4 linked regions of the Homo sapiens genome follow. The protein of the gene in region 2 binds, or shares a complex with, the protein of the main gene of each other region. Each region holds a gene or a part of one and is shown on either strand. Other genes may lie near its edges. The genes, in order: SPTLC1, ORMDL3, SPTLC2 and SPTSSA. A codon is read from its position in the direction of its gene.

The links.
Region 1: the proteins of ORMDL3 (region 2) and SPTLC1 are in contact, whole or in part, in a cryo-EM structure (PDB 7K0N), measured with the Homo sapiens proteins. Residues at the interface, in NP_001307730.1 of Homo sapiens: Gly92, Val93, Gln94, Phe95, Thr96, Ala97, Lys100, Thr103, Ile104, Ile107, Tyr110, Phe111, Ser114, Tyr119, Gln121, Phe124, Thr128, Leu131, Met132, Leu139, Pro140, His143; in NP_006406.1 of Homo sapiens: Ala16, Leu17, Ala20, Pro21, Tyr23, His24, Leu27, Glu28, Leu31, Ile32, Trp34, Ile35, Leu38, Leu39, Ser41, Lys42, Thr43, Tyr44, Lys45, Leu46, Gln47.
Region 3: the proteins of ORMDL3 (region 2) and SPTLC2 are in contact, whole or in part, in a cryo-EM structure (PDB 7K0O), measured with the Homo sapiens proteins. Residues at the interface, in NP_001307730.1 of Homo sapiens: Met1, Asn2, Val3, Gly4, Thr5, Ala6, His7, Ser8, Pro12, Val16, Ser19, Arg20, Gly21, Ile22, Leu24, Ser25, Leu28, Phe63, Val67, Lys68, Gly69, Thr70, Pro71, Phe72, Glu73, Pro75, Gln77, Arg81; in NP_004854.1 of Homo sapiens: Glu65, Thr66, Pro67, Met68, Ala71, Val72, Tyr75, Tyr86, Gln116, Phe118, Glu119, Asn120, Phe121, Tyr122, Tyr127, Trp134, Asp259, Glu260, Leu261, Asn262, Val267, Arg271, Ile279, Met320 (codon at 2,368), Val495, Val496, Gly497, Phe498, Pro499, Ala500.
Region 4: the proteins of ORMDL3 (region 2) and SPTSSA are in contact, whole or in part, in a cryo-EM structure (PDB 7CQI), measured with the Homo sapiens proteins. Residues at the interface, in NP_001307730.1 of Homo sapiens: Val36, Leu38, Ser39, Ile40, Pro41, Phe42, Ser44; in NP_612145.2 of Homo sapiens: Ile44, Tyr50, Thr51, Val54, Phe55.

Annotation. Positions count from the first base shown.
Region 1 is NC_000009.12:92,104,837-92,112,413, forward strand, and holds part of SPTLC1 (serine palmitoyltransferase 1), read right to left. Parts: intron 3,999-7,577; coding exon 3,904-3,998; intron 1-3,903. UniProt on the Homo sapiens protein: Component of the serine palmitoyltransferase multisubunit enzyme (SPT) that catalyzes the initial and rate-limiting step in sphingolipid biosynthesis by condensing L-serine and activated acyl-CoA (most commonly palmitoyl-CoA) to form long-chain bases.
Region 2 is NC_000017.11:39,924,206-39,931,865, forward strand, and holds the start of ORMDL3 (ORM1-like protein 3), read right to left. Parts: upstream 3,397-7,660; 5' UTR 3,279-3,396; exon of another isoform or gene 3,224-3,278; intron 2,798-3,223; exon of another isoform or gene 1,418-2,797; intron 1,167-1,417; exon of another isoform or gene 964-1,166; intron 601-963; exon of another isoform or gene 550-600; intron 21-549; 5' UTR 1-20. UniProt on the Homo sapiens protein: Plays an essential role in the homeostatic regulation of sphingolipid de novo biosynthesis by modulating the activity of the serine palmitoyltransferase (SPT) in response to ceramide levels.
Region 3 is NC_000014.9:77,550,309-77,557,885, reverse strand, and holds part of SPTLC2 (serine palmitoyltransferase 2), read left to right. Parts: intron 1-739; coding exon 740-845; intron 846-2,366; coding exon 2,367-2,586; intron 2,587-5,663; coding exon 5,664-5,790; intron 5,791-7,577. UniProt on the Homo sapiens protein: Component of the serine palmitoyltransferase multisubunit enzyme (SPT) that catalyzes the initial and rate-limiting step in sphingolipid biosynthesis by condensing L-serine and activated acyl-CoA (most commonly palmitoyl-CoA) to form long-chain bases.
Region 4 is NC_000014.9:34,451,762-34,459,338, forward strand, and holds part of SPTSSA (serine palmitoyltransferase small subunit A), read right to left. Parts: intron 1-7,577. UniProt on the Homo sapiens protein: Component of the serine palmitoyltransferase multisubunit enzyme (SPT) that catalyzes the initial and rate-limiting step in sphingolipid biosynthesis by condensing L-serine and activated acyl-CoA (most commonly palmitoyl-CoA) to form long-chain bases.

The sequences.
Region 1 (7,577 bases), on a different chromosome or scaffold from region 2:
CTCAAGAGCTTGACAGAAAACAACCAGACTGACAAGGCCCAGGTGCATGCAGTGAGTTTCTACTCCAAGGGCCATGGAGTCGCCAGTTCACACAGCCCTGTTGGAGGCATCCTTCCCTTTGGGAAGCCTGACCCACTTCCAACAGTGCTCCCTGCCCCAGTTCCGGGCTGCTCCCTGTGGCCAGAGAAGGCGGCCTTGAAGGTGCTGGGTAAAGACCACCTGCCCAGCTCTCCAGGCTTGCTGATGGTGGGGGAGGACATGCAGCCCAAGGATCCTGCAGCTCTTGGATCAAGTAGGTCTTCTCCACCCAGAGCTGCCGGCCACAGGTCCCGCAAAAGAAAACTGTCGGGGCCACCGCTGCAGCTGCAACCGACCCCTCCCCTGCAACTGAGGTGGGAGAGAGATGAGGGGCCCCCACCGGCTAAGCTTCCATGTCTATCTCCTGAGGCACTGTTGGTGGGTCAGGCTTCCCAAAGAGAAGGACGCCTCCAGCAGGGCAACATGCGTAAGAACATGAGGTTGTTAAGTAGAACATCAAAATTCAGGAGACTAAGAGAGCTGCTTAGGAGGAGAAAGAAGAGACAGCAGGGCAGGCGTGGTGGCCCACGCCTGTAATCCAGCACTTTGGGAGGCCCAGGCGGGTGGATCAGGAGGTCAAGAGATTGAGACCTGAGGAGCATCTCTGCCTGTACCATCTGGGAAGTGAGGAGCGCCTCTGCCCGGCTGCTCCACCATCTGGGAAGTGAGGAGCGCCTCTGCCCAGCCGCCCCACCATCTGGGAAGTGAGGAGCGCCTCTGCCTGGCCACCGCACCGTCTGGGCAGTGAGGAGCGCCTCTGCCAGGCCCCCACCCTCTCTGGGAAGTGACGAGTGCCTCTGCCTGGCCGCCTCACAGCCCGGGAAGTGAGGAGTGCCTCTGCCCAGCCGCCGCCCTGTCTGGGAAGTAAGGAGCGCCTCTGCCTTGCCGCCGTCCTGTCTGCGAAGTGAGGAGTGCCTCTGCCCGGCCTCCTCACCGTCTGGGAAATGAGGAGCGCCTCTGCCTTGCCGCCGTCCTGTCTGCGAAGTGAGGAGTGCCTCTGCCCGGCCTCCTCACCATCTGGGAAATGAGAAGCACCTCTGCCTGGCCGCCGTCCCATCTGGGAAGTGAGGAGCACTTCTGCCCAGCCGCCACCCTGTCTGGCAAGTGAGGAGCACCTCTGCCCGGCCCCCTCACCGTTTGTAAGGGAGGAGCGCCTCTGCCCAGCCCCTGCACCGTCTGGGAAGTGAGGAGCGCCTCTGCCCGGCCCCCTCACCATCTGGGAAGTGAGGAGCGTCTCTGCCCGCTGCTGTGCAACCTTCCAAGTGTGAAGTGACAGCCTTGTGTGTGATCTTTCTGCCCTCCCCAAGTCTGCATTTTCGACATTAAAGTTTACTTTTTAATTAAAAAAAAGGAGATTGAGATCATTCTGGCCAACATGGTGAAACTCCGTCTCTACTGAAAATACAAAAATTAGGCAGGCATGGTGGCTTGTGCCTGTAGTCTCAGCTACTCGAGAGGCTGAGGCAGGAGAATGGCTTGAACCCAGGAAGTGGAGGTTGCAGTGAGCCGAGATCGCACCACTGCACTCCAGCCTGGTGACAAAGCAAGACTCCGTCTCAAAAAAAAAAAAAAAAAAAAGTAAGACATGGCAAACTGCAGTGGCACCCAGCCTGCCCCTGCTGTCTCCACACCTGCTGAGACTCCCTGCCCCTGGCCACCTACACTTCACGGATCCCAGCTCCTCGTCTTACTCTGACTCGGCCCACGTGCTGTTGGGCCCCTCATTTTGCCTGTCCCTCCACCTTCTCTCACACCAAGAATTGAGTAAAATTTGATATCCATAATTCCTAACTCTTCCCTGGCTCTTCCCACTGACCTTGCCCCCATTTTGGGGGTTCCACCTAATGAGAAAGGAGGCTGCTCTCATTCAGCTGCAGTTTCAGTGCCTCTGACCTCTGACCCATGCCCCACACATCCTAGCCCCACATCTTTCTCCTTCCAGCCTCCCTTCAGAAGGGAGCCTCCTACACCCATATGTGTGCATTCCTCTCCTCCTCTTTCCTCCCCTCCTCCTCTTCCAGCAACTTTACTATAGAAAACAAAAGACCCAAGTATGCAAGCAATATATACCATGTAAATGGGTAGTGAGATTAAGTATCAGCAAGATACCAAGCCTCCTAAATTAATCCATAAATTCAACACACTTCTAATAAAAAACCCAAATGCATTTTTTTGGTTAAATATGATCACCTAAACCTAAACTCACAGTGAAGAAGGGTCAAGAATAGTCTAGACAATTTTGAAGAACACGGAGATAGAAAAACATTCTAATCAACGTTTATTATAAAGCTGTGGTATACATGAATGAGTCTCTGGTATAAGGAGATACGAATATATCCAATGAATAAAAATAAAAGCCAGAAATAGACCCTTTAGAAGGGAATCTGGCTTACCAAAGAAGGGAAATTTCCAAGCAGTAGGTAAATACTGGATTATTCAACTAATAATGCTGAGACAACTGACCATCATATGGAAAACAATCAAATTAGATCTTTAGGGTAGGAAACGATTCCCTAAGACTTCAAAAGACCAAACTATAAAAGATTGGTAAATTTGGGCCAGGTGCGGCGGCTCACGCCTGTAATCCCAGCACTTTGGGAGGCCGAGGCCGGCGGATCACAAAGTCAGGAAATCGAGACCATCCTGGCTAACACAGTGAAACTCCATCTCTACTAAAAATACAAAAAATTAGCCGGGCATGGCAGCATGCGCCTGTAGTCCCAGCTCCTCGGGAGGCTGAGGCAGGATAATGGCGTGAACCCGGGAGGCGAAGCTTGCAGTGAGCCGAGATTGCGCCACTACACTCCAGACTGGGCGACAGAGCGAGACTCTGTCTCAAAAAAAAAAGATTGGTAGGTTTGATTTCAGAATATATAAAAGTTTTATAAGACTGAAGAGATCTACAGAAGTAAAGAATAGAAGCTCCTGTTTGATCAGATCAGAATCAGAACAATACTACTCAGGAAAATATCTTGTATCACATTTTAAAATAAACCAAGTATTTTTATGGCAACAGGCATATATGGTAAAATTATAAATATAGGCAAAGAAAACACAATCACCAACTTCAAGACAGTAGTTATCCGTATGAGAGGCAAGAGTAAGTGATGGATGTGAAGGAATTTCTTAAGATGCATTTGTAATATTGTATTTACCTGTAAAAGTAAGTTTGAATTAAAAATAGCAAAATGTTAACACCAATTAATTCTGGGTGGTAGGTATATAGGTGTCTGATATCTATATCTATATCTGATAACTTTCTATATTCTTACTGTATTTCTTAATTAATGAAAATACATACAATATAGCAAAGATAGCCAAGAGAATGAAAAGTAAAAAATAGATGAGACACTGGAAGCAAGGAGGAAAGAGGCATAAGTGAGCGGAAGCTCCATAATTCATATTGTGGGGATCAACAGGTGTTGTCTGTAGTTGATGAATCAACAAATGGTAGTTAAGCATACTATACAGTATCTAGAATTATGAGGGTAACGTGCGACAAATTTAAAATCAGAAAATAACCAGATGGGTAAAAAGCAGAAGTCTGTTGCTTTTCATTTTAAGTGTTCGACCATTGGAAATATTAACATGTGTGCATTCTTGGAAAAAAGGGCAAACATTAATGCTTAAATTGGAGATTTTAAAAAATGCCTGTATCATCCCTAGAATAAATTTTTTAAAATCAGGAGCTAAAGCTGTTACTCCTGGGAACTTCAAAATGTTTTGTTTCAGATAAAAAAAGGACTACTACATATAAAGCACTATAGACTGCAGGTTACTACAAGAAGCCAAATACAAGTACTTCAGGTAGCAAAATCAATTTACCCTGAAACGATGTTGTAGTTGAGAGCAGGATGGTCTTTTGGGACAGGAGGAACAAGAGGTTCTGGTTGCCACTCTTCAATCAGTTCTTCTTTTTCCTACAGGAGAAAAAGAATTAAAATACAGTGCAGTGCTAATATTATCAATTATTAGTGTCTCTGCAACTTCAGTATTTCTTATTATTCTAATTCTACTAACTATTCTCAAGTTCGCTGTCACTCTTATTCAAGCTTATGTCTTCACACTATTAGTACGTCTTTGTTCGCATAATACATAATGACCCACCAGACACATGCCTACCATAGAGTTGTACCTAGCCCTTGACCACTAACAGGAGCTCTCTCGGCTCTCCTAATAACATCTGGCCTAACCATAGGATTTCACTTTAATTCTACCACTCTTTTAACTTTAGGCCTACTAACCAACACACTGACTATATATCAATGATGACGTGATATTGTCCGAGAAAGTACATTCCAAGGCCACCACACAGCAATTGTCCAAAAAGGCCTCCGATACAGGATGCTCCTATTATCTCAGAAGTATCCTTCTTCGCCGGTTTTTTCTGGGCATGCTATCACTCCAGTTTAGCACCAACCCCAGAATTAGGAGGACATTGACCCCCAACAGCTATTCTTCCCCTGAACCCTTCAGAAGCACCTCTCCTAAATACGTCTATATTACTTGCATCAGGAGTTTCAGTGACTTGAGCCCATCACAGCCTAACAGAAGGTAACCAAAAACAAACAATTCAAGCACTACTTACCACAATCCTCTTAGGAGTCTATTTCACCCTTCCACAAATCTCAGAATATTTCGAGGCCCCCTTTATTATCTCTGATGGAATCTACAGCTCAACATTCTTTATAGTCACAGGCTTTCATGGACTTCATGTTACTATTGGATCAACAATTCTCACCATCTGCCTTCTCTGCCAATTAAAATTTCATTTTAGGCCGGGCATGGTGGCTCATCCCTGTAATCCCAGCACTTTGGGAGGCCGAGGTGGGCACATCACCTGAGGTCGGGAGTTCGAGACCAGCCTGACCAACATGGAGAAACCCCGTCTCTAATACAAATACAAAATTTGCTGGGCGTGGTGGCACATGCCTATAATCCCAGCTACTCGGGAAGGCTGAGGCAGGAGAATCGCTTGAACCTGGGAGGCGGAGGCTGCGGTGAGGCAAGATTGCGCCATTGCACTCCAGCCTGGGCAACAAGAGCGAAACTCTGTCTCAAAAAAAAAAAATTCATTTTACATCCAACCACCATTTTGGCTTTAAAGACGCCACTTGATATTGACACTTTGTAGATGTCGTATGACTATTCCCATGTGTCTCTATCTACTGGTGAGGGTCCTACTACTCTTTTAGTATAAGCAGTACCACTGACTTCCAATCAACTAGTTTCGACAAAGTCTGAAAAAGAGTAATTAACCTAGCACTAGCCCTAATAACTGACACTTTATTAACTCTATTATTAGTAGTAATTACATTTTGACTTGCATAACTTAATACTTACATAGAAAAATCCAGCCTTTATGAATGTAGATTTGATCCATTAACCTCTACCCACCTCCTCTTCTCCATAAAATTCTTTCTAGTAGCCATCACATTTCTCCTATTCGATTAGAAATCGTCCTATTCCTACCCCTGCCATGAGCCCTTCAAACAAATAACCTTATACTAATAATCAGTACAACCCTTCTACTAATTACCATTCTAATCCTAGGCCTAATTTATGAATGAACCCAAAAAGGATTAGATTGAGTTGAACTGGTAAATAGTTTAAATTAAATGATTTCGACTCATTAGATTATGATAGACCATATTTACCAAATGCCATTTATTTATATTAACATTATATTAGCATATACCATAGCACTGCTGGGAGTACTAATCTATCGATCCCACCTAATACCATCTCTATTATGCCTAGAAGGCATCATACTATCAATATTTATCATAAATACACTCATAATTTTAAACATGCATTTCACTCTAGGATTCATAATACCCATTATCCTCTTAGTATTTGCTGCCTGCAAAGCCGCAGTAGGCCTTGCTTTCCTAGTCTCAATCTCCAACGCATAAGGCCTAGACTATGTACAAAATCTAAATTTACTCCAATGCCAAAAATTATTATTCCAACAATTATACTGTTACAATATAACTCTCCAAAAACTCTATAGTCTGAATATAGCTACTCATAGCCTATTCATCAGCCTCATTACCCTATTATTTTTTAATCAACCAAACAATAATTCATCTAACTTCTCATTAACTTTTTCTTCTGACGCATTAACATCACCTCTTCTAATCCAAACAGCCTGACTACTACCTCTTATAATCCTAGCAGGCCAACATCACCTATCTAATGAATCACCCTTATGGAAAAAAACTCCGTATTTCCAAATTAATTTTCCTACAACTTTTTTAAATTACAGCATTTACAGCCACAGAACTAGTCATACTTTACATTCTTTTCGAAGCTACACTCATCCCTACCCTAATCATTATTACCTGCTGAGGTAACCAACCAGAATGCCTAATGCAAGCTCATACTTATTTTACACACTAGTAGGATCCCTTCCCTTACTTATTACACTCATCCACACCTGAAATAGCTCAGGTTCACTAAATATCCTAATAATAATGTTTACTAATCAAGAACTATTAAACTTCTGATCTAACAACCTTATATGACTAGCATGTATTATGGCTTTTATAGTAAAAATACCCCTATACGAACTTCACCTATGACTCCCTAAAGCCCACATAGAAGTCTCTATTGCCAGCTCAGTAGTTAGGAGGCTACGGTATCATATGACTTACCCTCATCCTCAGCCCCCTAATAGAATATATATCCTACCCCTTCCTCATACTATCCTTATGAGGAATAGTTATAACAAGCTCTATTTGTCTAAGACAAACTGATTTAAAATCACTTATCACTCATTCCTCCGTAAGCCACATAGCACTTGTTATTATAGCTATCCTTATTCAAACCCCCTGAAGCTTTTCAGGCGCAGTCACTTTACTTCAACTTCGGCAATATCAAAATTGTCTGCTGCAATGCAAAAGTCACAGTGAATACACTGCTAGAAATACCATGTCTCGTTGTGGCTAGAATAAAAACAATCACTTGTGAGTTTTGTGCACTAACCACCCTCGCCTCTTTCCTTATCACTAGAGCTAGAGGTTCTTTTCCATGTAGTTTTGTGGGTGACTTGACAATTTATGAAAATTTAACTTCTATGCTCAGAATTCTTTTTTGATTTACCATACACATAAAAATTCAATTTGAGATGGGTATGAGTAGGATTCTTTTCTACTCTGACTCTCCTTTAAGAAGACCACAGGGGAATCTTTATCCCATACTTCAGAAATAGTTGTGCTATTCTGCAGCAACTCACACAACACTTATGAATATTCAAACTCCAGTAGTTGCCCATGCTTCCCTCTAACCATCTATTTGCAAGACTGCTGTTTACTCCTAGCAAAGTATCCAAGACCATAATATGGTCTTCATTTGGGTACTGACTTTATTTCTAGATTTCCCCATATTTTGCCTACCCTAATAATTCATTCCCCTTGATTTCCTTACATTACAGAAAATGCTTTAACACACATGGTTGAGCCACCACAAATCCTTTCTGGAAAGACATAGCAACTATA
Region 2 (7,660 bases):
TGCTGCCCCTCTCTGCTGTTCTGCAAACAAGCAGCACAGGTCAGACAGGTCACACTGCTTTCCCTGCCCCCTCTCACCCTCGGATCCCGCTGGGAGGCAGGCCCTTGTTTCCCTGAGAACTCCAGGCAGTTCCACTCTTTTGATTCTGAAGCATGGAAAGTGGAGAAAGTCCATGTGGACTTAGCTCTACTCATTTCCTGCTGCTGGGCTGGGATAAACAACAGGCTGCCCCATGCATCATCCCATTGGGACAGGGCCCTGGCAGGGCATCGGAGGACAGGTCATCAAGAGGCACGCAGCCCCAGGGCAGAGAAGTCAAGGCCCATCCCCCAGCCTCACCCCCTATGGCACTCCCATGAGGACCCTCTGCCGACAAAGCCCCAGGGAGAGAATTCTCACTCAGCACAACCCCTGCTGGACTGTGTCTCACTGAAGGCCTAATGTGGGACATCTGCTCTTAAGCTCTTCCCATCAGGAGGGAAAGGAAGTGAGGCCTGTGGGTACAGGCAGCAGTGGATGAACTATTTTGAGGTCACTGCATCCACTCACCTCCTCTGATTTTTTCAATTCTGGATCTCCCCAAACCCCAACTTAGGAGGACTGATCAGGTAGAAAGAGGGAAGTGGGGAGGGAGGAAGGGAGGAAGAAAGGAGAAAACAACAGACTAGGGACAACCTTTGCCCAGACCTAGAAGGCACCCCTCCTGGGTGACACAAAACAACCCATCCGGATGTTTTCTCCATTTGGCAGCCACTCAGGCCAACCCTTGTGATGCTACCCACTCCACTGCCAAACCACCAGGGCCCTTTTCCCCACAAGAGAGGCGAGGATAGAGAACGTGGCCAACACCTGTAACTCCCATAGAGAGCTGGAATCCACCTCAACATATGTCTCCTAAGGGCACAGACTCGAACCTGTGGCCTCCCTCCTGCCCCCGTTCTTCTCTGTCCTGCCCATCCTCACCTCAGTCTCCCCTCTCAGCACCTGTTTCCAGGTGTATATTAGCACCATGCCTTCCCCTGCCCAGCACCAACGGTAGGAGTCCTGCAGCAGGAGGAACCAGGAGGTGGCCGCAACCCACAGTGAGCAGAGGGAAGTAGAGAAGGAAGGGGTGGAATGATCTGCCCCTTATCCAGAGTTTGGCTGTCCCCAGATCCCTGAGGGCCCTGTGACCAGGAGAAAGTGGAGACAGATGGCACCTGTGTACTGGCTCACCTCCCTATCTGAGATAGGGTCCTGCTTGCTAAAGACCGTAAGGTCATCACCATGGTAACAGCCCCATCTTTCCTGGGAATGCAGAAAAGAGTCCCAGATGGAGATATTCTAGAAGTACCCAGAAGGCCACCTCCCTCACGCCCCTGCAGCAACCCCGTCAGACCCAGATGCTATCTATCTCTGACTAGGATCCTAGCCAAACCTGCACAGGAGACTGAGTCCTCAGGGGCCAGTTATTTACTTCCAGGATAACAGGAGCAAGTTTCCTCTTCTCAGACAGCTCCAAGCTTAGAGACCTCAGAGAAAATGTGACCCACAACACGCCATCCCAACAAGCAAACACCCGTGCGCCAGCCTGGGGCGCATTCTGATTGAAGAGATGCTCCTGGGACCCATCAGCGCAGCCCACTAGGCTGGATAATTGAGCCTAACAGAAATTCAAGTATCTAGAAAGCCAGAGCTGGCTCAGATTGTTTATCTTCCCAGGGCCTTGGGGCTTCAGTTACTCTAGCAGCCCCTGGGACAGCTGCTACGCAAAAGCCTCCACCTGAGAGGGGAGGGCGGCATGTGGCTGACAAGTGAGGGCTCTGAAGGACTTAACTCTGACTAAGGAGAGGGAAAGAGCTTCCCAAGTCTGACCTGAAACTGCCACCCCATCACCTCTCTGTAACCCGCACCTACAGGGGTGCTGGTATAGAAAGTCCACTAACCCTTCCTAGTATTTGTCCAGGAGTGCCAAAAGCCTTGGGGAATCCCAGATCACAGGACCCCATACGCCTTTCTGGCTTTCACAGGGCAGCCAACAAAACTTGATGAGCCTAGGAAAAGCCTAGACCTAGGTCCTAGCCAACACCCTCAGAAGCTTCTTCCTGAAGCCTAAACACTAGGTGCCCTGAGAGCAGGAAACCACCAGAGACCCCTGAAAAAGAAGAGATCAATAAACTAACAAAAAGACTGGCAATGAGGAAACACTCTTGAGACTTTCGTGTGACTATGGATACATATCACTTCCATTAGTAAAACAACCAACTGGCCCCTACCCTAGATGGGGAGAAACAGAGAGAAGAGGCTGGCAGAGGTCGACTAGGTCTACAGGAGTTGAGCCGAAAACTTCTGCTGCCATAGCTGGCAGGTGGCTGCTTAGTGCTGGGCCCTGATGTGGTTTCATAACCTGCCTCAAACCAGAGCCTGCAGCAACTCTGTTGTGTTAACCACTTTTTTGCTGGTAGCTCTTTCCCCCTCCTTCCCGCCCCACCCTCTTGGCTCCACATACAAATATCCGGGCCCAGCCAGTATGCCAGACACTCAAGCCAAGGCTGAGCACCACCAGGGCAGCCACCAGGTGAGCCCTTCCCATTCCCTCCCCCAGGAAAGAGCAGCCCTCACAACAGCAAACCTCCTGTCTTCTGGAAGAGGAGCACAAAACATCCAGGCCTGGATGGGGACCCCAACGGGGAGTCCGGGGCAGCACGTCACAATGCCATGTCCATTCCGCCCACCCCCCAAGCTGCAGGACCACAGCTGATAACCTCTCAACTTTGGCCCAGCCACCCCGACTGGGGGAGGGCGGTAGGAGCGGAAAGCGAGTGCCCAGGCGAACCCGCACTAAGCACAGGAGAGGAGGAGCGAAGAGGCGGAGTCCTCACTGTTGTTGGGGTTTTCTGAGTGAGACCTCGGGTGCGGGGCCGGGGGGAGGGGTCCCGCTCTGTTCCCCAGCCTGGGTCTTCGCACTCGGAACCCGGTCCGGTCCGGGACCCCACAGCCATCTCCACGCGTTCACCCAGCCCTGGAGGCAGCCAAACGTTTATCCCCGAAGCCGAGCCGCTCCCCGCCTCCCACCCCTAGCCGAGGCGCTCCTCCCGACGTTCCACCCCCGGCCTCCCGCTCGCACTTTATTCCTTGGCCACCTCCCCAGCCGATGCACCCCCTCGGCTGATGCACTCCCTCCACCCCCCACTCCCTCTGCCCCCGTCTCTCCAGCCCGGGGCGCCTCCCCAGCAGCCCCCACCTTCTCTCCCGCCCCTCCCGTAGCCCTGGGGCCTCTTGGTTCCTTCCGGGCTCACCGTGTGGGGCCGAAGATCAACGGCCCGGGAACGGTTCCCGGGAGCGGGGGCCGCTGCTGCTCCAGCAGCTGTAACAACCCGCGGCTGCAGCCTCCCCGCTGGCAGCTCCGGCCGAATCAGCGCTCCGCGCCGGTCCCCGTACGTCACCGCCCCGCGCCGGCACGCCCGACGCCTTCTGGGAGTTGTAGTTTCTTCCGCTGGCTCCGGGCCGGCCCTCCCGACGCCTCCTGGGAGTTGTAGTTTTTCCTGGGCTCCGTTCCCGGCCTCTTCGGGGACGCACGGTTGGAAGTTGTACCGTGACGTGATGGTCAGATCGGATGATAGAATTTTGGTGCGTAACAATTCCAACTTTTGCTTCTGTGCCCTTCAAGTGTATTTTATCCGTGCCCCAGTTTTGCAGATGAGGAGACTCGGACTTGTAAGTAACTTTCTGTAGGTCTTTGCTGGGTCCTAGACTGGATCGAAACCCAAATATTCTGACCCCAACTGCAGGATTTTTCCACTGCACCTGGCTGCCTCCGCCCTGGCCCCAGATTGGCTCCTCCAGAAACAGACTAGCCCGGCCCTTTGCCCTGCTGGGCCCTCCTGGGAGAGCGCTTTTCACAACATTGGCTGGGATGAGGGTCTGGAGGGCCCGGAACGGAGCCTGCCTTCTCCTTCTCAGTCACGCTTGGCCCAGGCTGCCCCGGACCGGGCCACATCCTTGGCCGCCCCGCACCTGACGTGAGAAGAGGCTACGTATCATAGATTCCTCCATCAGTAGTAAGGAGCCTGAGTTTCTGTCTCAGGTCAGCTTGTGTGGCTTTGAATGAGAGGCTCTGGTCTGCAGTTTTCACATCTGCATCGTCTAAAGGCAAGGGCACAGACTTTACTGCCTGGTAGACATGGGGTAGGCCCTCCTTTATTGGCAGTGTGACCCTGGGCAAATTACTTGTCTTAATCTCCAATTCCACACCTGTGAAACCCCACCTCCAAGGTTGTGGGAACCCAAAAGAATGTATGTAAAGCACCTGTTGCATTGTAGGAATCTACTTAATATTACTGTAGGAGGTTGAACTAAATGGCTCTTGAGGTCTCCTCGGTTACTCCCATTCTCCATGTCACCAAGAGGTCTTGTCTGGGTAGTTTCAACTCCTTACCCAGCTTCTTTCTAAGTCCACTCTATGCAGGGCAGGGCTGGAATAGCAAGGTCAGATGATGTCATGGCATGCCAACCTGACTCTGAATGGCAGTTCATGGCACCCTGAACTGAAAGTGAGGGAACAGGAAGGAAAAGGCTAGCCCAGGGAAACTGCGGAGCACTTTACTCGGACTACACCTACCTTTCCTTCCCCAGGGGGCTGCCAGGAAACAGTTGTCACACAGCTGGAGTGGGACCCCCAGAGGCACTTAGTGGTCACCAGGCAGGTGGGTATTTGAACCACCCAGAGCAGAACAGGCAGCTTCTTCAATATTTCCAGGGCCAATGGCCCCAAAAGGGCTCATTCCAAGATCGAAATAATCATCTGAGTCTGAAATAGCTCTGCCTATGTCCTGTGGAAGTTTCTCCTGGTTTGTGGAGGTGCCTTTCCTTATAGTCATCTTTCTGCAGACATAAGCAAACCCAGTGTTGTTCTTTTCACAGAAACCTCCCCAGCATTAAGGCAAGAAAGGTGTCTCTGTTTTTTCCGAAGTGTGCCTGCTTGACTCCTTTGATTTTTCTCTGGGATTCTTCATCCTCCATCAAGTTGATCGATCCCTCTGGATCTTGGTCAGTTTCCTGACATCTCTATGAAGTTCAGTGACCCAGACTGAGTCCACGTCTCAAATAAGGTTCTGACTAATGCAGAGTCTAACAGAAAGATTACTGAACATGTCATGCACTATTAATAACTCCTGTTATCGAGGATTTTTTTTTCACAATAGGAATGAACAGAGTTCTGACTCACTCTAGGTTTGTGGTAAATTGCAGATCACTTTCTGCTTTATTTAGCGGGAGTCCCTGTTGTCATCTTTCTCCTTCTCTCTTGGCCCTCATAATTATCATATCTTCCCCAAACGTTCTTCAGCTGTGAATAGCCCTAAGCACTATTCAGAGTGAGTGACAGCTCTCTTATTTCGTGCTGGGGGACATACAAACCCTTGGACAAACACTTGTCACTGTGTGCCAAGAAGCTGAAAAATTCTTCTTGCCTCAGAGCCATAATTACACTTTTGGTAGCATATTCTAAGGAAGTCATCCCATGTACAGGAAAAGCTGCAATGTGTCAGGATGTTCATTCCAGCAATATTTATAGTAGTGAAAAACTGAAAGCAACCAAATGCCCAAGAAAAAAATTACAGTATATCCACTGGATGGAATAGTATGAAGCCATTTAGGACAGATTGTGAAAACCCTGTGGCAGTATGGGGAATGTTTGCTAAGTTATATGAAAAGATGAGGACACAAAATAGCATAACATACATTCCCCAGGGATATAGTCAGCAAAGTCTAGAATGAAGAAAATTAGGACAAACACCCAATTCCCTTAACAAATAAAACTGGGGCCAGGTATGGTGACTCACGCCTGTAATCCCAGCACTTTGAGAGGCCAAGGCTTGTGTCCAGGAGTTCGAGACCAACCTGGACAACATGGTAAAACCCCGTGGTCTACAAAAAATACAAAAATTAGTTGGGCATGGTGGTGTGTCTATAGTCCCAGCTACTCAGGAGGCTGAGGTGGGAGGATCAATTGAGCCCGGGAGGTCAAGGCTGCAGTGAGCTGTGATCGTGCCAGTGCATTCCAGTCTGGGCAGCAGAGTGAGATCCTGTCTCAAAAAAAAAAAAAAAAAAAAAGGAAAAAAAAGAGGGGGAGAGACTTACAGATTAAAATAAATTAAATGATATATCAACTAAAAGTCTTATTTGGATCCTGATTCAAGCAAACTGACTTTAAAAAAAAAAAAAAAAAAAAAAAAAAAAAGGCCGGGCATGGTCACGCATGCCTGTAACCCCAGTACTTTGGGAGGCCAAGGTAGGCGGATCACCTGAGGTCAGGAGTTTGACACCAGCCTGGCCAACGTGGTGAAACTCCGTCTCTACTAAAACTACAAAAACTAGCTGGGTGTGGTGATGGGCGCCTGTAATCCCAGCTACTCAGGAGGCTGAAGCAAGAGAATTGCTTGAACCCAGGAGGCAGAGGTTGTAGTGAGCCAAGATTGCACCATTGGCACTCCAGCCTGGGTGACTGAGCAAGGCTCTGTCTCAAAAAAAAAAAAAAAAAAAAAAAGATTTTATTAAGTTATCAGGCAAATTTGAATACTGACAAGGTATTCAACGATATTAAGGAATTCTAAATGTTTAGGCGTGATATGGAATTGTGGTAAGGTTGTTTTTTTAATTTAAAAAGTCCTCCATGGCTGGGCGTGGTAGCTCATGCCTGTAATCCCAGCACTTTGGGAGGCTCAGGCAGACAGATCACCTGAGGTCAGGAGTTCGAGACCAGCCTGGCCAACATGGTGAAACCCCGCCTCTACTAAAAATACAAAAATTAGCCAGGCGTGGTGACAGGCGCCTATAATCCCAGCTACTTGAGAGGCTGAGGCAGGAGAATCGCTTGAACCCAGGAGGTGGAGGATGCAGTGAGCCGAGATCGTGCCATTGCACTCCAGCCTGGGAGACAAGAGTGAAACTTCATCTCAAAAAAAAAAAAAGTCTTCCTTGGCTGGGTGCGTTGGATCACACCTGTAATCCCAGCACTTTGGGAGGTGAGGCAGGCAGATCACAAGGTCAGGAGTTTGAGACCAGCCTGGCCAGCATGGTGAAATCCCGTCTCTACTAAAAATAGAAAAAAATTAGCCAGGCATGGTGGCACGTGCCTGTAATCCCAGCTACTCGGGAGGCTGAGGCAGGAGAATTACTTGAAACTGGGAGGCAGAGGTTGCAGTGAGCCGAGATCATACCACTGTACTCCACCCCGGGTGACAGAGAGAGACTTCGTCTCAAAAAAAAAAAAAAAAAAAAAGTCCTCCTTTCAGACATACATACATACTAAAATATCTGTGGATGAAATGATACAGTGATTGCATTTGCTTCGAAATAATCTGGACTGGGAACCATAGGGAAATAATAAGATGAGCCATGAGGTGATAATTATGGAAGCTGTGTGATGAGGACATGAAGTTCCTTATATTATTTTCTATACTTTTTTTTTTTTTTTTTTTTTGAGACAGAGTCTCACTCTGTCACCCAGGCTGGAGCACAGTGGTGCAGTTTCGGCTCACTGCAACCTCCGCCTCCCTAGTTCAAGAGATTTTCCTGCCTCAGCCTCCCGAGTGGGCTGGGATTACAGGTGCACGCCACCACATCCAGGTAATTTTTGTATTTTTAGTTGAGACAGGGTTTCACCATGTTGGCCAGGCTG
Region 3 (7,577 bases), on a different chromosome or scaffold from region 2:
AAATTATGATCATCATTAATGGCAGTAGCAGCCAAGTTGTTTCCAGGCCCATTAACCACCATAAGAACCAACAGAGCCACAAGAACTTGGTTGTTTATGGACAACTGATGAAGTCAAACATGGAACAATTTCAACTGATTGTCAGGCTTGCTTAACACACAGACTTATACATGCCCCAGACGGGTGTATTTTTAACCCAGTACCAAAATAAAACTCTTTAACAAGCGTTTATTGAGTACGTCCTGGGTGAAAGGAAATGGAGCACGCACTGTGAAGTTTTTTTACGCCTTGCGTTTGTTTTTTTAGGAGGAGTATGTGTCTGTGATGGTTTATTCACACTCTCTCGCTCTGTCTTTTTTACGCATTTATTTCCGAATGACTCACTGGGATTAGAGATACAGTTTGATTCTGTATTTTTCGATAAACACACAGAAGCTAACTTAATGGCAGGGTATTTAACATGAGACACTGGTCATTTTATAAGGAAGCTAATGAACTGAGTTAGCCACCACCGTCCTTTAGTCAAGTTTCGATGGTTTTGAACATTTGTTACATTTTGGATTTCAATTCAAGGTGGCAATAATTCACCTATTTTGCCCTGCTTTTTTCTGCCCAACTCTAATTATGTCCTTTGCTATCTGAGGCATGGTTTCTGAATGAGAAATATATCTCTGCATTTCCGGAATAAAGTTAGGAAAGAGGAAGATGCGGTATAACTGTTCTTTTTTGTGCTCTGTAGATATGCAAAGCCTAGAGAAGCTATTGAAAGATGCCATTGTTTATGGTCAGCCTCGGACACGAAGGCCCTGGAAGAAAATTCTCATCCTTGTGGAAGGAATATATAGGTAATCCTGCTTTATTATTCTTACCTTTGTGACTTGGCCCCATGAAGTCATAGAATTTTTTAACTGAAGGGAACATTAGTCTATCCCCCTCTGGAAACTAAGGAGACAGTGTTTATAAGTCGCTAAAATACCTGGAAACAGAGTCAGCATTAGAACAGAAGTCTTTTTGTCTAGTTCTTCGTTATTCTTTCCATAATACTACATGGTCACCAAATCCCCTTTCTATTTGAGTCTTTTATTTTTCTAGTTTGTAGAGGGAACCTATATGTAGGGGCAAGAATTGGAATATATATTTTAATATGTCAAAACAAATTACACACCATTTAATTTTAATAAATATTTTATTTTAGGCTGAGTGCAGTGGCTCACGCCTGTAATCCCAACACTTTGGGAGGCAAAAGTGGGAGGTCGCTCGAGGCCAGGAATTTGAGACCAGCTTGGGCAACATAGTGAGACCCTGTCTCTGTAAAAAATAAATAAAAATTAAAAAGAAATATTTTATTTTGGTTAACCTTTACAGCTTTTACACGTATTTTTACCACCTAATTTTTTTTGTTCTTTTGTGTCATTTTAATTGCCTGTGCAACGTGATGCAAAGTCTCATGTTGCCTGTAATTACAAGCTTTAGAAGAATCTGCTGTGACCTTAATTATTTTTGTCGTGAATTAAGATTGCTTGTGTTTGGTGCTTGTTTTTTGTTTTTTGGTGGTTTGGGTGGCTTTTTTTTTAAGATGGAATCTCGCTGTGTCACCCAGGCTGGAGTGCAGTGGCGGGATGTCGGCTCACTGCAACCTCCGCTTCCCGGTTCTCCTGCCTTAGCCTCCCGAGTAGCTGGGATTACAGGTGTGTGCCACCAAGCCCAGCTAATTTTTGTATTTTTAGTAGAGACGGGGTTTCACTGTGTTGGCCGGGCTGGTCTCGAACTCCTGACCTCAAGTGATCCGCCTACCTCAGCCCACCAAAGTGCTGGGATTACAGGTGTGAGCCACCGCGCCCAGCCAGTGCTTGTTTTAAAAGTCCAGTTTTCTTTCCCCTAGTCTTTTGCCTTGCCATGGCTTCATCTACCTTTGTCAGTTTAAGCCACAGATACAGTTGTCAGACCATTTAAAACCCAATAAACTCAGCCGGGCAGGGTGGCTTATTCCTGTAACCCCAGAACTGTGGGAGGCCAAGGCGGGTGTATCACTTGAGGCCAGGAGTTCGAGACTAGCCTGGGAAACATGAGGAAACCCTATCTCTACTAAAAATACAAACATTATCTGGGCGTGGTGGTGGCGGGCACCTCTAGTCCCAGCTACTTGGGAGGCTGAGGCACAAGAATCGCTTGAACCCAGGAGTCAGGGATTGTAGTAAGCCGAGATTATGCCACTGCACTTCAGCCTGGACAATGGAGCAAAACTCTGTCCCAAGAAAAAAAAAAGAAGCAGTAAACTCAATAATAATGAAGTGCCAAACTCCCAATTTTGATTTAAAAAGTCTCAGTGTATATGTGTATATATATATTTTTTCATGTTTTGCCAGCATGGAGGGATCTATTGTTCGTCTTCCTGAAGTGATTGCCCTCAAGAAGAAATACAAGGCATACTTGTATCTGGATGAGGCTCACAGCATTGGCGCCCTGGGCCCCACAGGCCGGGGTGTGGTGGAGTACTTTGGCCTGGATCCCGAGGATGTGGATGTTATGATGGGAACGTTCACAAAGAGTTTTGGTGCTTCTGGAGGATATATTGGAGGCAAGAAGGTAAACGAGCCATGAGAATGAGCGATTAGAGATAAAGTCACTGGCAATTAGATTTGGTACCTCAGGCCTAGCAGATGGGGCCCTGAACTGGGATGTCCGCAAATTTGCCTCTGGTTTAGGCTCATAATACCAGTGAGTGACTCTAATGTCTCCTCACTGAACTAAAGGCTGGTTCTGTTCATTGTTTGTTGTTTTCTTATTTGAGCTTCTTTCTAAGCTACATGCTGATCTGAGATATAGAATACCCTCTTGTGTGAAAGAACACACAGTGGTGCTCCCTGCCCGCCCCAGCCTTCTGTTGGGTTTGCATTGTGCTCACAGTTTCAAAAACAGTGGGGTTGTCATGGGAGCCCATGGGAATAGCAGGTCACCTTGCCCTTGGACACAAATATATCATGAGTGAACATGGAGACAGGAAGCAAAAAAGTTGTGCCAGCTGTGGGGTACTACAAAGCATTGTATTTTTCAATTTTTAAACTATGAAGTTGCCTTTTCTGGGTCTTTGTAGTCAGAAAAAAATCATACGGTGAATTTTGATGCAGGTAAGAATCTGTGGTGTGGTCGAAATGGTGAACCATAAAGACAGAGGCCTGGGTCTGAATATTTCTCGGCTTACTTTGTTAGACCTCAGGGAAAACATTTAACCTCCCAGTTTCCTTGTCAGTAAAATGGAGATAAATATGCCCAGCTTGTAAGATTGTAGTAAGGGTTTAAAAAGTAATATATGTCCATGCTACAACGTGGGTGCACCTTAAAAACATTATGGTAAGTGAAAAAAGTCACAAAAAGTCACATATTGCATGTTTTAAAATATGTGATACCTAGAATAAGCATAGAAACAGAAAGTAGATTAGTAGTTGCCGGAGGCGGAGGGGATAGGGAAATGGAAAGTGAATGCTAATGGGTATGAGGTTTCCTTTCAGGGTTATGGAAATGTTCTAAAATTAGTGGTAAAAGTGGCACAACTCTGGATATACTAAAAACCACTGAATTGTGCTTTAAAACGGTGAATTCTGTGTATGTGGCTTATATCACAATGAAGCTGTTATTTTTAAACGTTGATTGCAATGTTAGGGAAAAAATAATGTATGTCAGGTATTTGTATATGGCACAGAGGAGGTGCTCATAAATGTTCTTAATTTTGCTTCACCACTCAATATTCGGAGTATTAAAGAATGGTTATGCTGGGCACAGTAGCTCACACCTGTAATCCCAGCACTTTGAGAGGCTGAAGTGGGAGGATTACTTGAGCCCAGGAGTTCAATACCAGCTGGGCAACATAGTGAGACTTCATCTCTACAAAAAAGTAAAAAAATTAGCTGGGTGTGGTGGTGGCACATGCCTGTAGTCCCAACTATGGGGGAGGCTGAGATGAGAGGATTGCTTGAGCCTGGGAGATCAAGGATGCAGTGAGCCGTGATTACACCACTGCATTGCAGCCTGGGCAACAGAGCAAGACCCTATCACAGAAAAAAAGGTCATTCTTTTAATACTTGATTGCCTGTTAGAGAGAACTCATTTTCAGTGACTTTTAATCAGCTTTGATAGATTTTTTTTTTTTTTTTTTTTTGAGACCAAGCCTTACTCCATTGCCAGGCTGGAGTTCAGTGGCACAATCTTGGCTCACTGCAACCTCCGCCTCCTGGGATCAAGCGATTCTCCTGCCTCAGCCTCCCAAGTAGCTGGGACTACAGGCACGTGCCACCATGCCCAGCTAATTTTTTGTATTTTTAGTAGAGACAGGGTTTCACCGTGTTGGCCAGGATGGTCTCGATCTCTTGACCTCGTGATCTGCCCGCCTCGGCCTCCCAAAGTACTAGGATTACAGGTGTGAGCCACTGCACCTGGCCAGGTTTGATAGATTTTTATCTCAAATATTACCTTTTTGTTAATGGGACCAGGCTCACTTTGGAGAGTTGTTTTTTAGTAAGCTTTGTGGCTGTGAACCAAAGGATAGAAAAATAATACTCTGGGAGATCATTAAAGTACAATATATTTGTGCTTTTGGTTTTTTTAGTACAATTTTTAATATTTTTGAGATAAAACTGTTTCATAGCCACATTTGTGTCCCCCTAATTTGTTCTGGTACATAAGCTTCTTGTGTGTGCATTTTAAAGATTTGGTGAAATTAAAAGATATCAGAGAATAGGGATATACAATTAAGTTTTTTTGAAATCCTTGTAAATGACAGAGTTTTACTTTATTCAGTGAGATGTCATTGGCATTTTAATAAAATACCTTGTAAGTTTCTATTTCACATTTATATCATTTTATACATTTCTGCATATCTGGAGGAAGTTCTAATGCTCTTAAAGTTGATGTTAGAGAACTGTTATTTAGGGGTAGAAGGATGGGCTTTATAGGCACACAGAGCTGCAGATGACATTTTCTGTGATACTTGGAATTAAATCATTATATCTAAAAAGCAATCCAAACACCTTGTTTAATTCAGCTGTGTTCATTTATTTTTAACTTTTTTTTTTTTTTTTTTTTTAAGACGGAGTCTCACTCTGTCCCCCAGGCTGGAGTGCAATGGCGCAATCTCAGCTCACTGCAACCTCCGTCTCCTAGGTTCAAGCGATTCTCCTGCCTCAGCCTCCCAAGTAGCTGGGATTATAGGTGCCCGCCTCCACGCACAGCTGATTTTTGTATTTTTAGTAGAGATGGGGTTTCACCATGTTGGTCAGGCCAGTCTTGAACTCCTGACCTCAGTAGATCCACCCACCTTGGCCTCCCAAACTGCTGGGATTACAGGCATGAGCCACCATGCACGGCCATATTTCTAACTTTAAATGATACATTCTCCAAATTTAGAGGGGTTGTTTTAAAACTAGTTTTTCTCTTATGTTGTTCCATGTTTAAAAAACAAAACCAAACCTAAGAACTTTGCCATGTTTCTGACCCAGTTGTTGCCAGCGGTATGCTTCGACCATGTTGGTTGACCTTGTATCTCAGATTAGTGTCCCTATTCCAGTGCCATTGAAGTGAGGAGTCCTCTAGAACTTAGAAGGAAAGGACTGACATTGCCGGTGAATGCAAGAATTGTCTCTACTTATCTGCCTCTGTGAACTCCCCAGGAGCTGATAGACTACCTGCGAACACATTCTCATAGTGCAGTGTATGCCACGTCATTGTCACCTCCTGTAGTGGAGCAGATCATCACCTCCATGAAGTGCATCATGGGGCAGGATGGCACCAGCCTTGGTAAGTCTTTCTTTTCTTGAAACATTGCATAAGTCCACCTAGCAGCCAAACGTGCTGTTTTTCTTGAGCTTTTTTCCTAAAATAAATAGTCAGGTTTACTAATAGGCAGAGCTGGCTGGTGTGTGGTTTCCATGGACACTTTTTTAGTGTGTTTGATACATATGCCATGAGAACGACCCTGGCTCACTTTCTATGGAATTTTCTTGTTTATAGATGGGAGGCTTTACTCTTACTATCCTACATACCCTCTTAACTCAGAGGTAATATACCTTCGAGGTTTTTCTTGAATTACATAATTTTATGTGAAGGTATAATTCACTGTTAGTGATGTTTCATTAACAGCATAGTTAAGAGCTGCTGTTTTCATAAATTAGTATTCCTGATTTAATGCCTTTTTAAAGAGTTTCTACTTTCATATACGGTAGATAATAAATGACATCCTGAATCAGTTTATTTTGTCTTTGATGGGATTTGTAGTCCCAACTAGATGCCTTGATTTAAACATACTACTGTGAACAGTGAAGTTCAGTGTTCACTTTCTGACATTTGACTTTTATTCTGCAACACCAGAGGGCAGTATTGACTGCAGAACAGTGGTACTAAAAGGGGAGCAACTGGGTGTCTGTCTTTACTTTAAAAAATATTTTCATTGCATGTATGAGACAATAATTTCACTTGTCGCTTTTTTTTTTTTTTTTTTTTTTTGAGACGGAGTCTCACTCTGTCACCCAGGCTGGAGTGCAGTGGTGTGATCTTGGCTCACTGCAAGCTCTGCCTCCCGGGTTCACACCATTCTGCCTCAGCCTCCCGAGTAGCTGGGACTACAGGCGCCCGCCACCACGCCCGGCTAATTTTTTTGTATTTTTAATAGAGACGGGATTTCACCGCATTAGCCAGGATGGTCTCGATCTCCTGACCTCGTGATCCGCCCTCCTCGGGCTCCCAAAGTGCTGGGATTACAGGCGTGAGCCACCGTGCCCGGCCCAGTTGTTGCTTTTTTAATGCTTGTAAAGTCAGTTTGGCATTTGTAAAAGATTTCACATTATCAGCCATGAGCTCTCCACTCTACAGTTATGTAATACTTTATTGTAAGATTGATTTGGCTTGCATCGAATAAAGTGGCACATCTGATTTTGGTTGGTTTAAGACTGTTTTCTTTCTTTCTTTTTTTTTTTTTCTGGTTTTTGTTTTTGAGACAGAGTCTTGCTCTGTCTCCCGGGCTGGAGTGTAGTGGTGCGATCTCAGCTCACAGCAACCTCCGCTTCCCAGGTTCACATGATTCTCCTGTTTCAGCCTCCCAAGTAGCTGGGACCACAGGAGTCTGCCACCACACCTGGCCATTTTTTTTGTATTTTTTGTAGAGATGGGGTTTCACCATGTTGCCCAGGTTGGTCTTGAACCCCTGGGCTCAAGCAGTCTGCCTGCCTTGGCCTTCCAACGTGCTGGAATTACAGCTGTGAGCCACCACACCCAGCTGACTGTTTTCTTTTCTTTTCTTTTCCTTTCCTTTTCTTTCTTTTGAGATGGAGTTTTGCTCTTGTTGCTCAGGCTGGAGTGCAATGGCATGATCTTGGCTCACCACAATCTCTGCCTCCCAGGTTCAAGCGATTCTCCTGCCTCAGCCTTCCCGAGTAGCTGGGATTACAGGCATGCGCCACCACACCCGGCTAATTTTGTATGTTTAGTAGAGACCGGGTTTCTCCGTGTTGGTCAGGCTGGTCTCGAACTCCCGACCTCAGGTGACCTGCCTGCCTTGACTTCCCAAAATGCTGGGATTACAGGCGTAA
Region 4 (7,577 bases), on a different chromosome or scaffold from region 2:
CTTAGAAATACTCAAGAGTTGTGATAAATCTAAGAAATCATCTTAATGAAAAAAGAAAACAAAGCATTTGACGAAGTATTATCATATGCTGTTTACTGAAAAGCAATCAAAGCCCTAAGTGAAAGCAGCTGCAGGCTACTGAATGAAGCCCCAAACAGGAAAGCTTCCTTATTACTGTAGTTTTCTTTTCCTTTGACCTCAAAAAACTGCAGATCATCACCAACAGAAATGTAAAGAAAGTGCCTAGCGTGGTGGCTCACGCCTGTAATCCCATGCCAGCACTTTGGGAGGCCGGGGCGGGCATATCACCTGAGGTCAGACCAAAAAAAATACAAAAATTAGCCAGACGCAGTGACGCACACCTGTATTCCCAGCTACTCGGGAGGCTAAGGCATGAGAATTTGAACCCGGGAGGCGGAGGTTGCAGTGAGCCAAGATCGCGCCACTGCACTCCAGCCTGAGCAACAGAGTGAGACTCAATCTCAAAAAAAAAAAAAAAAAAAAGAAAGTTAATTTTTCCTAGATATATCAACTATCTCTTGATACTTTTCCAGTTTTCTTACATTGAAACAAGTGGAAAATATTATACTGTCACAATATTATACTGTCACAGTCCTCTGTATGTTAACCAATTTGATATTCAAGGGTCATGTTAAAGGATAGCACATCACCATCAGAAATTAGTGTTTAGCAAGCAAAATCCATTCTCTAAGCTTTCTATAGTGTGCTGATTATACAAACCTAAGTATGAAAATTGTTTTTAGAAACTACAACTTGATGACAAGCTCTTTTAAAACTAAACAAACAACAAAGCATGCTGCTGAAATGAGTAATGATCACGGACTGAAAATTTTTCACTGTGGACTAAAATCCTGGAAATGGTTTGTAGCTCTAATCCCAGAGACACTAAGGTTATAGTGTCTCTGGCACACATTTATTGATTTGAGCTTCTATTACCCTCAGGAAGATTTGAAGTCCCAGTGTTATGGGGAAAAATTTCCCAGTCTGCTCTGAATTATAATCTGTTCTGCTACAGTACATGTTTCTGTAACATCAGATAACTCACATACGACTAGTACAGTACAGGAGCTATATTCCTTCATATGGGATATTTCATCATTTAGGGGAGCAGATTAGTGGGAAAATAATTAGGTGACCCTTGAAAACATGGGTTTGAACTGTGCAGGTCTACTTATACATGGATTTTCTTCTGCCTCTGCCACCCCTGAAACAGCAAGACCAACCCCTCCTCCTCCTCCTTATGATTTTCTTCCCTCTAGCTTACGTTACTATAAGAATACAGTATATAATACATATAACATACAAAATATGTTAATCGACTGTTAATGTTATCAATAAGGCTCCAGTCAAAAGTAGACTATTAGTAAAGTTTCTGGGGAGTCAAAAGTTGTACACAGATTTTCAACTGCCTGCAGGGTGAGGATGAGGGCCTGGGGGCAGTACTCCTAACCCCCAAGTGGATCAAGGGTCAACTGTATCACCTTCTGCAGGAAACATCTCTCAACTCAGCTGCTATACAGGCAGAAGTCCTTTTAACTCTATTTTAAGAAAATCAGAAATTCGCATTTGTACCCAGTCTCCCTCTTCAGAGAAAGGCACCTCCAGGGTAGCACAGCTCTCAGCCAATGTGGCAGGTGGCACTGGCCCTACACTGCCTCAATGGCAGCCCACACTGTCTGTATTACATCAGCACCTACTGCTGACATTTCCATTCAACTTTGTCCATGCTTTGTTCATGTCCCCTCGGGCAGCTTCCAGTGAAGCTGAGCTGCCTGCCTGTCTGGGACATCCAAGTTATTCCCTCAAGATGCCAAGTATTGTGTTTGTTAGTGCTTGCTTACTAAATTGCATACATTTTAAGTGGTCTGACTCAATAATATTTTCCTATAAACCATATTATTTTGCAGTTTTTCAGAAACATATATAATACATGCTGACCAAAACGCTTGTATTAGTAAAACTTCTATTTCTCATAACTATTGATCATAACTACTATTTTTTCAACATTCCAATTTATAAAAAGTATATATCCTCTATCAAGTACATCTTCTAGAACACATAGCTTAAATTACTAAATTTGAGCATTTGGGGTTTGTTCTTTTAAAAAAAAAAAGAGGCCAGGTCCGATGGTTCACACCTGTAATCCGAGCACTTTGGAAAGCTGAGGCAGGAGGACTGCTTGAGGCCAGGAGTTCAAGACCAACCTAGGCAACCTAGTGAGACCCTGTCTCTACTAAAAATTTAAAAATTAATCAGGCATGGTGGTGTGTGCCTGTAGTCCCCACTATTTGGGAAGCTGAGGCGGGAAGATCACTTAAGCCCAGGAGTTCAAGGGTACAGTGAACTAAAGATCATGCCAGCCACTGAACTCCAGCCTGGGCAACAGAGCAAGACCCTGTTTTAGGGGGAAAAAAAAATCTATCTTAGCTCCTATGTGCCATAAATGTTACAACACTCATAGTCTGGAGGAATCACAAAGTCTTTAAGAAAATGGAGACAGGACCTATAGTGATCACTACTCACAAATCACTAGAATCACATGCTGAAACACTGCTGCAGAATATCAATGTGTGGTCTGTTCCCACTGCCATTAACCCAACCATGACTTTCTCTGCCTGTCCTGGTATAGACCATTTAGTTCTTGTTAAGCACAGTTTTCATTATTTTCAACCTTTACCAACCAAAAACTACTAAAGAAAAAGTTAATATTCTAAGGAGTACAGTTAAGAGATATCCTAACATTCTCACTGAATCAGCCAAATATAAAGGCTAACATGTTAAACAGGCTAGAGCAGTTTTCTTCAAACTAAAGCAGTAGGGCCCTGGAGTTAACAAGACAACTTTCCAGGAGGTTAGGATAGTTTAAGGAGAATCCGGTTAAAGGTGGTCTGCTTCCACCGTACTCCCAGAGCTTGATCTGTCTGAGAATTCTTGTGGTTTGCTGGTTGTCCTTCCCATCCTCCCTTATAAATGTATTCACTTCTCCCACATTACTTCCTAATCTTACAATTGTTCATTTCCCAGACAGGTGCAGTGGCTCATGCCTGTAATCCCAGAACTTTGGGAGGCCAAGGTGGGTGGGTCACCTGAGGTCAGGAGTTCGAGACCAGGCTGGCCAACATAGTAAATCCCCTTCTCTACTAAAAATACAAAAATCAGCCGGGTGTGGTGGCAGGCACCTGTAATCCCAGCTACTCGTGAGGCTGAGGCAGGAGAATTGCTTGAACCCAGGAGGCGGAGGCTACAGTGACCCAAGATTGCGCCACTGCACTCCAGCCTAGGTAACAGATCAAGACTCCATCTTGAGAAAAAAAAAAAATAGGAGCCGGGCTAGGTGGCTCACACCTGTAATCCCAGCATTTTGGGAGGCCGAGGTGGGCGGATCACGAGGTTGGGAGTTTGAGACCACCCTGGCTAACATGGTGAAACCCCATCTCTACTAAAAATACAAAAAATCAACAGGGTATGGCGGCGGGCACCTGTAATCCCAGCTACTGGGGAGGCTGATGCAAGAGAATCGCTTGCAACCAGAAGGCAAAGGTTGCAAGGAGCCAAGTTCGCACCACTGCACTCTAGCCTGAGGAAAAGAGCGAAACTGTCTCAAAAAAAGAAAAAAAAAAGGAGTATATTTTTTATATATTCACAGAATATCTCAGGAGAGATGCATAGGAAACTGCTGACACTGGTTGTCCCAGGGTGGCCGAGGCAGGGGTGGAAGGAAGACTGTGTCACCAACTACCTTTTTGTATCTTTTGTGTTTTCAACCATAAGGATGTATAATCTATTTTATTTACAACTTAAAATTCATATTTTCCAAACTCCCAAATACTTTAATTAGTATATTGAGATGCAAAAAAAGTCCTTTTAGGCCAGGCGCGGTGGCTCACACCTGTAATCCCAGCACTTTGGGAAGCTGAGGGGAGAGGATCACGTGAGGTCAGGAGTTCAAGAACAGCCTGGCCAACATGGTGAAACCCCGTCTCCACTAAAAATACAAAAATTACCTGGGCATGGTGGCGTGCAACTGTAATCCTAGCTATTCAGGAGGCTGAGGAATGAGGATTGCTTGAACCCAGGAGGCAGAGGTTGCAGTGAGCTGAGATCATGCCAGTGTACTCCAGCCTGGGCAACAGAACAAGACTCCATCTCAAAAAAAAAAAGTCCTTTTTAATTCTAAGTTGTAAGTATCTGAGGATACAGCAAAAATCTAAGAAAATAATTTAGTTGCTACTGAAAATAACATACAGCTTAAAATGTGTGGCTGGGCGCGGTGGCTCACACCTATAATCCCAGCACTTTGGGAGGCGGAGGCAGGCGGATCACGAGGTCAGGAGATCGAGACCATCCGGCTAACATGGTGAAACCCCGTCTCTACTAAAAAAACAAAAAATTAGCCAGGCGTGGTGGTGGGTGCCTGTTATCCCAGCTACTTGGGAGGCTGAGGCAGAAGTATCACTTGAACCCTGGAGGCAGAGATTGCAGTGAGCTGAGATCGCGTCATTGCACTCCAGCCTGGGCAACAAGTGCAAAACCCTATCTCAAAAAAATAATAAATCAATAAAATAAAATAACAAATCAATATATAAACAACTGTTTTTTAAGCATTATTTGTGTGCCCAGCACTGTGGTTTAAAAGTGGGAAAAAAATGTTTTCAAGACACATGAACTGTCTTTCAGGGTGAATCTAATTCCTAACATAAACCAAAAAACTGCCCACATTTTGCTGAAAATAACATGCCATGGAAACATCATCAGCAGCAAAGAGATGGGCAAATATAGCCCAGTGATTATAGACTAATATGACTTTATTTTTTAATGAATAAAACAAGATTAGGCCAGGCGCGGTAGCTCATGCCTGTAATCCCAGCACTTTGGGAGGCTGAGGCAGGCAGATCACCTGAGGACAGAAGTTCAAGACCAGCCTGGCCAACATGGTGAAATCTTGTCTCTACTAAAAAATATAAAAATTAGCCGGGCGTGGTGGCACACACCTGTAGTCCCAGCTACTCGGGAGGGCAAGGCGGAACAATTGCTTGAATCCAGGAGGCAGAGGTTGCAGCGAGCCAAGATCGCGCCACTGCACTCCAGCCTGGGCAACACAGCGAGACTCCATCTCAAAAAAAAAAAGAAAAGAAAAAAGATTAAAATAGCACACTTCTGATTCAAATTATTATTATTATTATTATTATTACTATTATTATTATTATTATTTTGAGACGGAGCATTTGCTCTGTTGCCCAGGCTGGAGTACAATGGCACAATCTTGGCTCACTGCAACCTCCACTTCTTAGGTTCAAGCAATTCTCCTGCCTCAGCCTCCCATGTAGCTGGGACTACAGGCGCCAGCCACCATGCCCCACTAATTTTTTATTTTTAGTAGAGACAAGAATTCACCATGCTGGCCGAGCTGGCCTTGAACTCTTGACCTCAGGTGATCCAGCCACCTCAGCCTCCCAAAGTTGATTCAAATTATTTTAACAATCTATTTTTAATTTTCTCAACTCTCAACAGGAATGGTTACAACGTTATCCAAGTGAGGTACTTCAGGGCGTGTCTCACTGTTACAAAAGCCTATCTTGGTTACAAAACCTGGTCTTTTCTTTCCCACCTTGGGATGCCAGTAGGGAAAGGATACTTTTGAAAGGTATGTTAAAAATGTCTCCTCCTGAGATAAGGTCAGTGGTTCTCAGTCTATGGTAGGTCTCCTTTTGTAGTATATACTGTAATACTAATTGGCACTTATCAGATTCTTCTTTATTGTTACCTTTTGTCTTAATGCAGGTGTCATGTCCCATTTCTCTGTAAGATAGAAACATGTCTGCACATGGAAAAAGTTCAAATATTCCTTGACAAACCAAAAGCCAATGTATCACTTCAAATGTCTCATCAGAAGACAGATGGTAGCCCAGGCATCTTGGCTCATGCTTATAATCAATCCCAGCACTTCGGGAAGCTGAAGTGGGGGGATCACTTGAGGTCAGGAGTTCAAGATCAGCCTGGCTAACATGGTGAAACCCCACCTCAACTAAAAATACAAAAATTTAGCTGGGCATGGTGGCACGGCCTGTAGTCCCAGCTACTTGGGAGGCTGAGGCAGGAGAATCGCCTGAATCCCAGAGGCAGAGGCTGCAGTGAACCGAGATCGCACCACTGCACTCCAGCCTGGGTGACAGAGCAAGACTGTCTCGGAAAAAAAAAAAAAAAAAAACAAAGAAAAGAAAAGAAAAGACAGATGGTATATAGGCCCTAGTGAGGAAGAATTTACAAAACTTACTTATAAATCTTACTGTTTCAAGAACTATTCACAATGTGTCTGACTTGACCCAATAGATGCTTTTCCTTAAAAACACATCTTAAAATCTTTTTTACAAATTGCAATTTCCTTACATAGGTAAGTTCAAAAATACTTATATTCAATTGAGATTTTTTTTTCTTTTGAACAGGCTGTCACCTAGGCTGGAGTGCAGTGGCGCCATCTCAGCTCACTGCAACCTCTGCCTCCCAGGTTCAAGAGATTCTGGTGCCTCAGCCACCAAAGTAGCTGGCGTACACTACTACACCCGGCTAATATTTGCATTTTTAGTACAGACTGAGTTTCACCATGTTTTCTAGGCTGGTCTCACATTCCTGGACTCCAGCTATCTGCCCACCGCGGCCTCCCAGAGTGCTGGGATTACAGGTGTGAGCTACCGCGCCAGGCCTAAGATCGACTTTCTTTTTATTTTTTTTTTTGAGATGGAGTCTTGCTCTGTGGCCCAGGCTGGAGTGCAGTGGCACGATCTCGGCTCACTGCAACCTTTGCCTCCTGGGTTCAAGCGATTCTCCTGCCTCAGCCTCCCGAGTAGCTGGGACTACAGTCGTGCGCCACCACACTCAGCTAATTTTTTTTTTTTTTTTTTTTTTTTGGTAGAGATGGGGTTTCACCATGTTGGCCAGACTGGTGAACCGCCACCGCGCCCGGCCAAGATTGACTTTCAATTTACAACAGCTTTTAACTAACTTCTAGCTATTTGACTTGGGAAGTCAAGAAGCAAATAATTTCTAAACATCCATTCAGATGCTCAAGGATGCCCCTGGAAAGTACAGTGATAGTACGTTATCAATTTCCCCTGAAATTACAACTTTTTTTTTTTTTTTTTTGAGACGGAGTCTCACTCTGTCACTGAGGCTAGAGTGCAGTGGCGTGATCTCGGCTCACTGCAACCTCCGCCTCCCGGGTTCAAGCGATTCTCCTGCCTCAGCCTCCCGACTAGTGGGATTTCAGGCGTCCACCACCACACTCGGCCCACAACTTCAAATTTTTAAAAATGCATTATATAGCAGGAAATGTAAACTAATGCATCTATCCTCTTTAAGAAATTAATCTGGGCCAGGCGCGGTGGCTCACACCTGTAATCCCAGCACTTTTGGGAGGCCAAGGCAGGCGGATCACTTGAGGTCAGGAGTTTGAGACCAGACTGGCCAACATGGTAAAACCACCCCACCCCCACCCCACCCCCAACTCCGCCTCTATTAAAAATACAAAAATTAGCTGGGCGTGGTGGTGGGCACCTGTA